2 separate regions of the Homo sapiens genome follow, and region 1 is linked to region 2. The links come from fine-mapping of genetic effects on gene expression. A gene starts in region 2. The other region holds a variant in brackets. All regions are shown on one strand. Distances are between the middles of the regions. Region 1 overlaps ZNF81 (zinc finger protein 81). Region 2 holds the start of ZNF182 (zinc finger protein 182).

Region 1 (4,401 bases), 100 kb before region 2:
TTTGTCTTGGTTCTGATATTGTGGGCAAAAACTTCAGTCTTTCACCATTAAGTTATGATATTAGCTGTAGGTTTTCTGTACCTGCCCTTTAACAGGCTGTGTAAGTTCCTTTCTAATCCTAGCTTGTTTCATAGTTTTTTTTTTTAAATCATGATTGAGTGTTGAATTTTGTCAAATGCTTTTTCTGCATCTATTGGAGAGATATTATATATATCAGCATTTTTTGTTCTGTTATTATGGTGAATTCATTGATTTTTAAATGTTGAATTAACCTTGTATTTCTGAGATAAATACTAGTTGATTATGACGTATTAGCTTTATTATATATTGTTGGACTCTACTTACTGATATTTGACTTAAAAGTTTGCGTTTTTCATGAGTGATTTGGTTCATGGTTTTCTTTTTTTTCAATGTCTTTGTCATGTTTTGATATTATGGTTATACTGGCTACTAAAATGAGTTATGAAGTGTTCCCTTCTCTATTTTCTGAAATACTTTGTGTGAGATTATTATTTCTTTTAATGTTTCATGGAATTAACCAAGAAAGCCATTTGGACCTAGAATTTTCTTGACAGGAAGGATTTAATGACAAACTTAATATTTTAAATAGATGTAGAGCTATTCAGATTTTTTGTTTCATCTTTTGCCAGACATAGTAAGTTGTACTTTTCAAGGAATTTTGTCTATTTCCTCTATGTTGTCCAATTTAATCCTGTTGTGGTCTGAGAGCATACTCTTTATGATTTCAGCATATGGTCTACCTAGGGGAATGTTTTGTGTGTCCCTGCAAAGAATGTATGTTCAGTTGTTGATGGGTACAGTGTTCTATAATCTATAACTCAGGTTGGTTCCATGTTGTTGAAATCTTCTAATGCCTTACTAATTTGTCTTCTACTTGTTCATTCAATTATTTGTAATTTGGGGGGGTTAAAACTGTCAAAGAGATTTAAAAATTTATATGGATATGCAAAAGACCTAGAATGACCAACACAGTCTTGAGGAAGAAGAAAAAGTACGGAGGATTGACACTACCAAATGTTAAGATTTACTTTAAAGCTATAGCAATCTGGACAGTATGTTATTGGTGTAAAGACACACTAATATATAAATGGAACAGAAGGGAAAGACTAAAAATAGACCCATTAATATATAGACAACTGATTTTTGACAAAGGTGCCAATGTAATTTGAAGGGAGAAATGAAAGTCTTTTCAAATTGTGCTGGAACAAATGGATGTCAGTATTGGGGGAAAAATTCATACTTTGACCCATACTTCACATCCTATACAAAAATTAACTCAAGTTCTAGTATTATAGAATTGTTTATATTGAAATAACCTGCCAGACAGATAAAAAATTGTTAACCCTGGAAAGCATATTTTTAAAACTAGCTACTGAAGATGCTGGAAAGTGATCAAAAGAACATTTTTCTGCTCCATCATATTTTGAGTAATTTGGATTGCGTCCTGAACATTATCAATGTTTATGGTAACATGGTATTCTGTTATATTGTTCTGAAGAATGTCAGTGTTCTTATCACAGCAGGCAATTAACTAGGTTAGATTGACACTGGAAATGCTGTCTCACCTAAGGCGAGTGGCAACTCAGGTGCACTTCAGCCCTGCTTTAATTTTGCTCTACCCATGCAAAGTTGAGGGGTCAGCCAGAGACTTAGGCAGATTTTATACACAGAATTAGGAATTTGCTTTTTTTGATTCTTTCTTTTTGAGTTGCCCCCTTAATCTCTAGTGGCCCCGGGTACCCAGGCCTTCTTCCCCTGATTCCTCTCGCAAAAGGATTACAAGCTTTTATGAGAATTTTAGCTGCTCCACATTGCTGCTAGGAGTGCAGCTACTCTCAACAGAAACCCGAGAAAAGGGGAACTCACTAC[G/A]TGCTAGTCACTTCCTCTAACTTTTGACCCCCCTACAAAATCTGCCTGCTTTTGTTTTTTTATTTTTGTTTGTTTTTTTATTTTTGTTTGTTTTTCTAGAGATTACATTTACTATCTGTAGAAGGGTCTTTTTCAGAAGCTTACTTCTCCATACTGGAAGTAGAACTCTTACCATTGATTCTTGTACATTGACCTTGTATTCCGAGACTTTGCTACATTTTGCTTATTAATTCTAGTGGGTCTTTTTGTGAATAAATACCATAAAACTTTCTGCAAACATTATCATGCCTTTCTGTCATTTCCTTTTTGGTCTATATGCTGTTTATTTTTATTTTATCTTGTTCCCAATCTGAAGGCAAAAACTTTCAGTCTTTCACCATTAGGTGTATTAGCTGTGATTTTTCTTAGATGCTCTTTATTAATTTGTGGCAATTTCTTTCTATTCCTAGTTTGATGAGAGTCTTAAACATGAATTGATGTTGAATTTTCTAAATGCCAAATGCTTTTTATGTATTTATTGAAAAGTGCATTTTATCCTACTAATATGGTGAATTTTTACTGATTTTTAGATGTCAAACTAAACTTACATTCCTGAGATAAACCTTACTTCATCATGGTGTATTATCTTTTTATGTATTTCTTGATTTGATTCGCTAATATTTGGTAAGGATCTTAATCTCCATGTCTTTGAGAGAGATTGGTCTTTAGTTTTGTGGGCGGGGGGGGGTTCCCTTATAATATCTTTGATTTTGGTATCATGTTAATTCTAGCTTCATAAAATTAGTTTGGAAATTTCATGCCTGCTCTGTTTTCTGAAAGAGTTTGTGTAAACTTGCTATATTTGCTAGAATTTTTCAGTGTTCACGTCTCTTGTGATTTTGTATAAGATTACTTTAAATTTCTTTTTCTTAAATATGTGATAAAATTCACCAGTGAACTCATCTGGGTCATCTGAAGTTTTCTTTGTGGGACTGTCTTTAATTTCAAATTCAGTTTCTTTAATATAGGAATATTCAGATTTTTTATTTCTTCTTGTTTTAATAATTTGTTCCTTCAAGGAGTTCGTGTATTCCATCTAAGATGTCAATATTTCGACATAAGTTTTTTTCATTAATACTTCTGTATTGTCACTTTAATGTCTTGTATCTTCGCCAATGTACTCTCTTTCTCTGAAGTTGATAAAATTTCAATTCAACAGGAATATATATATATAAACCTAATTTTCTATGTACTTAATAACATAGCCTCAAAATATATAGTAAACACTGGCAGTATTAAAAGGAGAAGTAGACAAAATGCACAATCATAGTTGGAGATTTTAACACACCTATTTCTCTAACTGTTGTAACAAGCACACAAAAGAATCCCTAAAGAGGTAGAAGACTAGAACATGATAAACCAATATGATGTAATCGACATACATAGGTTACTACATCCAACAACTACAGAATACACATTCTTTTCAAGTATACATGGCACATTCACCAGAATAGACTATTTTGGGATATAAAGCTGTTTGCATCAAATTTCAAAGGATTGAAGTCATAGACTGTATGTTCTCTAACCACTGTTAAATTAAAACTCTGAATAGAAAAACAATTAAAAAATATCTAAATGTTTGAAAAGTAAGCAACACACATCCAAATATCCCATAAGTCAAAAAAGATATCACAATGAAAATGTATTGAGTGAAGTGATAGTGAAAATCGACACATCAGAACTTGTGGGGCCGGGCGCAGTGGCTCACACCTGTAATCAGCACTTTGGGAGGCCGAGGCGGGTGGATCACCTAAGGCCAGGAGTTTGAGACCAGCCTGGCCAACGTGGTGAACCCCATCTCTACTAAAAATATAAAAATTAACGCAAATCAATAAATTTAATCCAGCATATAAACAGAACCAAAGACAAAAACCACATGATTATCTCAATAGATGCAGAAAAGTCCTTTGACAAAATTCAACAACCCTTAAGGCTAAGAACTCTCAATAAATTACGTATTGATGGGACGTATCTCAAAATAATAAGAGCTATCTATGACAAACCCACAGCCAATATCATACTGAATGGGCAAAAACTGGAAGCATTCCCTTTGAAAACTGGCACAAGACAGGGATGCCCTCTCTCACCACTCCTATCCAACATAGTGTTGGAAGTTCTGGCCAGGGCAATTAGGCAGGAGAAGGAAATAAAGGGTATTCAATTAGGAAAAGAGGAAGTCAAATTGTCCCTGTTTGCAGATGACATGATTGTATATCTAGAAAACCCCATTGTCTCAGCCCAAAATCTCCTTAAGCTGATAAGCAACTTCAGCAAAGTCTCAAGATACAAAATCAATGTACAAAAATCACAAGCATTCTTATACACCAATAACAGACAAACAGAGAGCCAAATCATGAGTGAACTCCCATTCACAATTGCTTCAAAGAGAATAAAATACCTAGGAATCCAACTTACAAGGGATGTGAAGGACCTCTTCAAGGAGAACTACAAACCACTGCTCAATGAAATAAA
Region 2 (4,401 bases):
TCTTGAAAAGACAAAACTACAGTGACACAGAACAGACCTACCGCTGCCTGAGGTTACAGGTTGGGGAAGACATGACTATTAACAGAGTAGCATGAAGGAGTTTTTTTGGGGTGATGAAACTATTATCTATCCTATAGATTAGTTACACCAATCTAACAAAAATCAATTTCACTGTATGTTAATTTAAAAAATAAAAATGTTTAAAGTGAAAGAAAAAATATGGTGGGCTGCAGGTATCTGAAAAAATTTTGTCTCTTGGACAAAAGATAATTCAAAGTCCGACTAAGAAATTGCTTCAGGAAAATCATTGGAAAGACAAGCAGGTTCCCTAAGAGATTTCATTCCCAAGTTACATTTTGACATGATGTCTCCAGCTCACTGAGGAAAGCTGTAGCACATATCTGCAGGAAAGCATTTGTCACCAGGCTGTGGTTGAGGGCAACTGCACTATCCACATGAAGACCCAGCAAAGAAATACCTTTAAACACAATTCCAGGCAACCTTGACTTCCCATGAAGGCTGTGTGCTCTCTCCTGATGAGTAAGGTGAGCCAAGGTACTGGTTATGTTTCCCTTTGGCTACCAGAAGGCTCAAAGAGAAACTGACAGCCCAACATCAATATCTGTTACACCCTGAGTCCTGCACACCTCTACATTCTAATTTGGCCTTGATCTGTTGTCTCTTATTTTGCCTGATCCAATCCTTATTTACAAATACTTTCCTATTTTATGGCAGGGATTTCCACATATTTCGTCACATCCACAGTAAAATAGAGGAATGAAGAAACAGACAACATACTTACCTGGGGTTTGGCCATTTCCTGCTCTTCTTGGGAAAAAGCAGAGATGTGTGACGGCCGAGCTGGAACAAGTGGAGAAGAGTACAGCAGATGAGGAGACCCCATCAGACTTTCAGTGCCCAGAATTAGCTGCCTAGCAATCCCCTCACATCAGCTGGCCATCAGACTGCTCTCTGGAAGAGTCTGGGCAACCATGTGATTTTAACAATCTGTGTATTATTCACTCTTCATGTGAACATTGAACACAAAAGGTTTTATATACACATATATTAAATTGTGTACTGACCCATAAAGTGTATTTGTAGGTATTTTCCTTAAGGAAATAATTTATCATAATGTATCATAATTTCTCTGCACGTACCCACGTCTCAGCATTGATTTCAATAATGCCAAACTTAAACGATCCTCTATGACCCATAAGGGATTAATAATAACAAAATATAAAAGATAAAATGCTACAAAGCTGTTAAAAGCGTTATATGGAACTGTACAGTATCTATGCACTTTGTGGTATATGTATCTCAACTAAACGTTTTTAAAAGGTGTACAAAAAAATCCTAAGGTGAATTACAAAGTAGGTTTTAAAACTGCGGGAATCCATTTTAAAGTTATATGTTAAATGTTTAAAAGGCATACCCCTATACACACCAAAAATGTCTAAAAACGGACATTTAAATGTGTGGGGGAAGAATTAGTTCCTGTTGATTTTCTTTTTCTCTATTTCAGAATTAATCTATATATTCAAATGTTATTTATTAAATGCCAAAAAAAACTACACTCTAAAACTATTATCCCAATTACATTTTACCCCCATCTCCCTCAGACCCCGCACCTACCCCTCCTCCCACGCCCCCAACTTGGGCGAGGCCCGGGGTCAGGTGAGACCTCGCAGGTGCCTCTCCTTCCTTCTGCTCACCTCACCGGGGCCGCCTTGCCCAGAAGCCGGAAAGAGGCCTTCGGGTGCGGGGGTGCAGGTTCACTTCGGCCGGAGCATTCACACCAGGCCCCCACCTCGGGGCTTGGGCAAGGGGAGAGGGCAGAGGGAGAAGCGGGGCGCGTCTAAAGAGGGGTCTGAGGGATGCGCATGAACCTTTAGGGGCAGGTCACTGTGCTGGAAAACGTGTAAAAGTCAAAGTTTAATAAGCCCCATTTAATCCTGCTTAGCCCCCATAACTTTGTTCACCAGTGAGCCCCTAGAACCTCGTCCACTGACCTCTCGGTCCCCCATCACTCAACCCCCAACTCCCACTTCACTCATCCCACAGAACTCCCCATCACTCAGCCCACGACCCCTAGCACTTGCCCCCTCAACCTCACTCTCTCTCGATAACAGATTTTCTGCTCGCTGCTCAGGAGACCGTTACAAAGCCTGGCCCCAACAAGCACTTCCGCTTCGGGACCGACTCTTTGGCACCGCAGCCTAAAGGGCTGCAGGGGTCGGTTCTGCGCACGCTCAGTGGCGCCTTTGAGACCCCGTCCGCCAATAGTCAACATGGGGCCGCAGCGCAGGCGCAGAGGGAAGGTAGCCTTGCCGGTGACGTCACTGCTCCAGGCCAGATGGCCGTGCCCACCGTGTCCTTTTGCTGCTGGGGCTGCGTCGCAAAGCGGTTGTTTACTTAGTTATGCAGAGGCAGGCACTCCTAAGACTTCAGACACCAATTTTCTTACGGCAGGGCGGGGAGGGGAAGTGCCCAACTAAGGAAAAGATTCTAGCAGGCGGCAATTTCGCACTTTGAACTTGGAGGGCAGCAACAGGGTTGCAGGTGTAAAATAACGGGAAGGCGGGATGCGTGGCTAAATTGCTCTGCGTGCACAAAGAGTAGGAGGTAGGGAAAAGCCACTGGCTTCATCCAGTGGCCAGGACTGGGAGTTTACGTTGTAGCGTTTGAAGGACGGTGGGTCGGTATGCAGACAAACAAGCTGAAAAATAAACGGCGATGTGGGACACACACACCGGGGGTGAAGGGGTATATTAAGTGGTGGCTAACAGGTTGCTTTTTCTGGATGAGTAGACAGTGTCAGTGTGTTGGGAGTGTAGGGGGTGTAGGCTGGGGCCAGGTGCTGTAGGGCCTCCTTGGCCAGGGAGCTCATATTTCATTCTGGACATATGGGAAACCATAAGAAGGATCCGATCTGTAAAGACCAGTCTGAAGCAATCTAGCATTATATAGTAACGTTAAAAATACACATATATTGGGCTGGGTACGGTGGCGTGCGCCTGTAATCTCAGCACTTTGGGACGCCAAGGTAGGCGGATCACCTGAGGTCAGGAGTTCAAGACCAGCCTGGCCAACATGGTGAAACCCCGTCTCTACTAAAAACACCAAAAATTAGCCGGGCTTGGTAGCACGCCTGTGATCCCAGCTACTCTGGAGGCTGAGGCAGGAGAATCGCTTGAACCCGGGAGGCAGAGGTTGCAGTGAGCCAAGATCACACCACTGCACTCCAGCCTGGGCAACACAGTGAGACTCCATCTCAAAAACAAAAAACAAACAAACAACAACAACAACAAAAGGAATGGAGCTTCCCAGTAGACAAGACAAAGAAAGAAAGAAAGTAAAAAAGGAACTCACATCTGTTGCTCCCTGACACATCAGCACCTCCTGGGTATACAATTTATCCACTCTCTCAATGCATTAGGAGGTAGAAAATAGAAAGGGCTGGTCCTTTAGGGCCCATCAAGTGTCGCCCCTTCTAGCACCTAAACGTCATCTCCAACCACCTTGTACACACACACCTACACAAAGGAGGAAATCTTTTAGGGTTGGTGGGAGTTGGGGGGCAGAGGAGCCAGTGATACAGCCCCTCAGAAACTATCTGAGGGCCCACAGTGTGCATGCACAAGCTATGTGAGGCTAACTTTGCTGCTGCAGAGCGAGGACTCCCACTCTCTGTCCTGGGTATCCTCTACCGTCATTCCCTACAGGTGTGACCTCCTCATACAGTAACCTAAGCAGCAGGTGGCTAGGTGAAGGAGAGTGAGAAGCTGACAGGTGGCTGGTCCCACCACAGAGTCTGCATGATATGACATTCCCACCCAAAGACAATGAGAGAAGCCCCCACGTGGCTGGCGAGTCATCATTACAATTGCTCTTATGATACATTTTATCAAGACCACAAAAGCCTTGCCAATTGTGAGCGGTCATTTTGGACCAGAAGCAGCAGGTGAGGCTGACAGAGCAACAGCACAGAAGGAGCCAGGTCTCTGGTGACCTTGGAGCTACCACACTAGCCCTGGATTACCTGCCTCCAAAAGAGGAATCTGCTTCCCTCCTCTTGAAGCCACTGGTGTTTGTGGTGGGGTTGGTGCGTGCAGCCAGATCAAATCCTGAGCAATCCATCAGATGCTTCTGTGTTGGCCAATGTGAGTGTCAGTGAACAGGAGATACATGGGACTGGTGGGTGAGGGGCATGAATAATGGTGACTGAAGGGCAAATTGGGAGTAAATGAGAGCAAGGAGAGGCAAAGGGCAATGGAATGGAGGTGAATGAACACCAGAGTGGAGTGGATGTGGGCCAAAGTGAGGGAATGACTATGCATGCATTCAATTATGAATGAATTTGAGATTATGATGAGATTAAGTAAATGATGGGAAATGAGG

What was found. PIP is the estimated chance that this variant, and not a neighbour inherited with it, causes the effect. A credible set is the group of variants that fine-mapping cannot tell apart.
Region 1: its variant is the best candidate, but not a certain one, in a credible set for the expression of ZNF182 in whole blood (TOPMed, PIP 0.60).

Annotation. Positions count from the first base shown.
Region 1 is chrX:47,899,157-47,903,557 of GRCh38, forward strand. The region is part of intron 4 of ZNF81 (zinc finger protein 81); the gene reads left to right. Among named protein-coding and RNA genes, the nearest start is that of ZNF81, 64 kb to the left of the region's middle. RefSeq lists an enhancer at 1,783-1,832. The variant G/A (reference allele first, on the strand shown) is at 1,891.
Region 2 is chrX:48,001,793-48,006,193 of GRCh38, forward strand. ZNF182 (zinc finger protein 182) reads right to left here and starts at 2,197. Exons shown (of 6, transcript NM_001007088.2): 1 at 2,117-2,197; 2 at 1,716-1,910; 3 at 803-861. The coding sequence starts at 817. It also overlaps a transcript of SPACA5 not described here. RefSeq lists an enhancer at 1,813-2,122.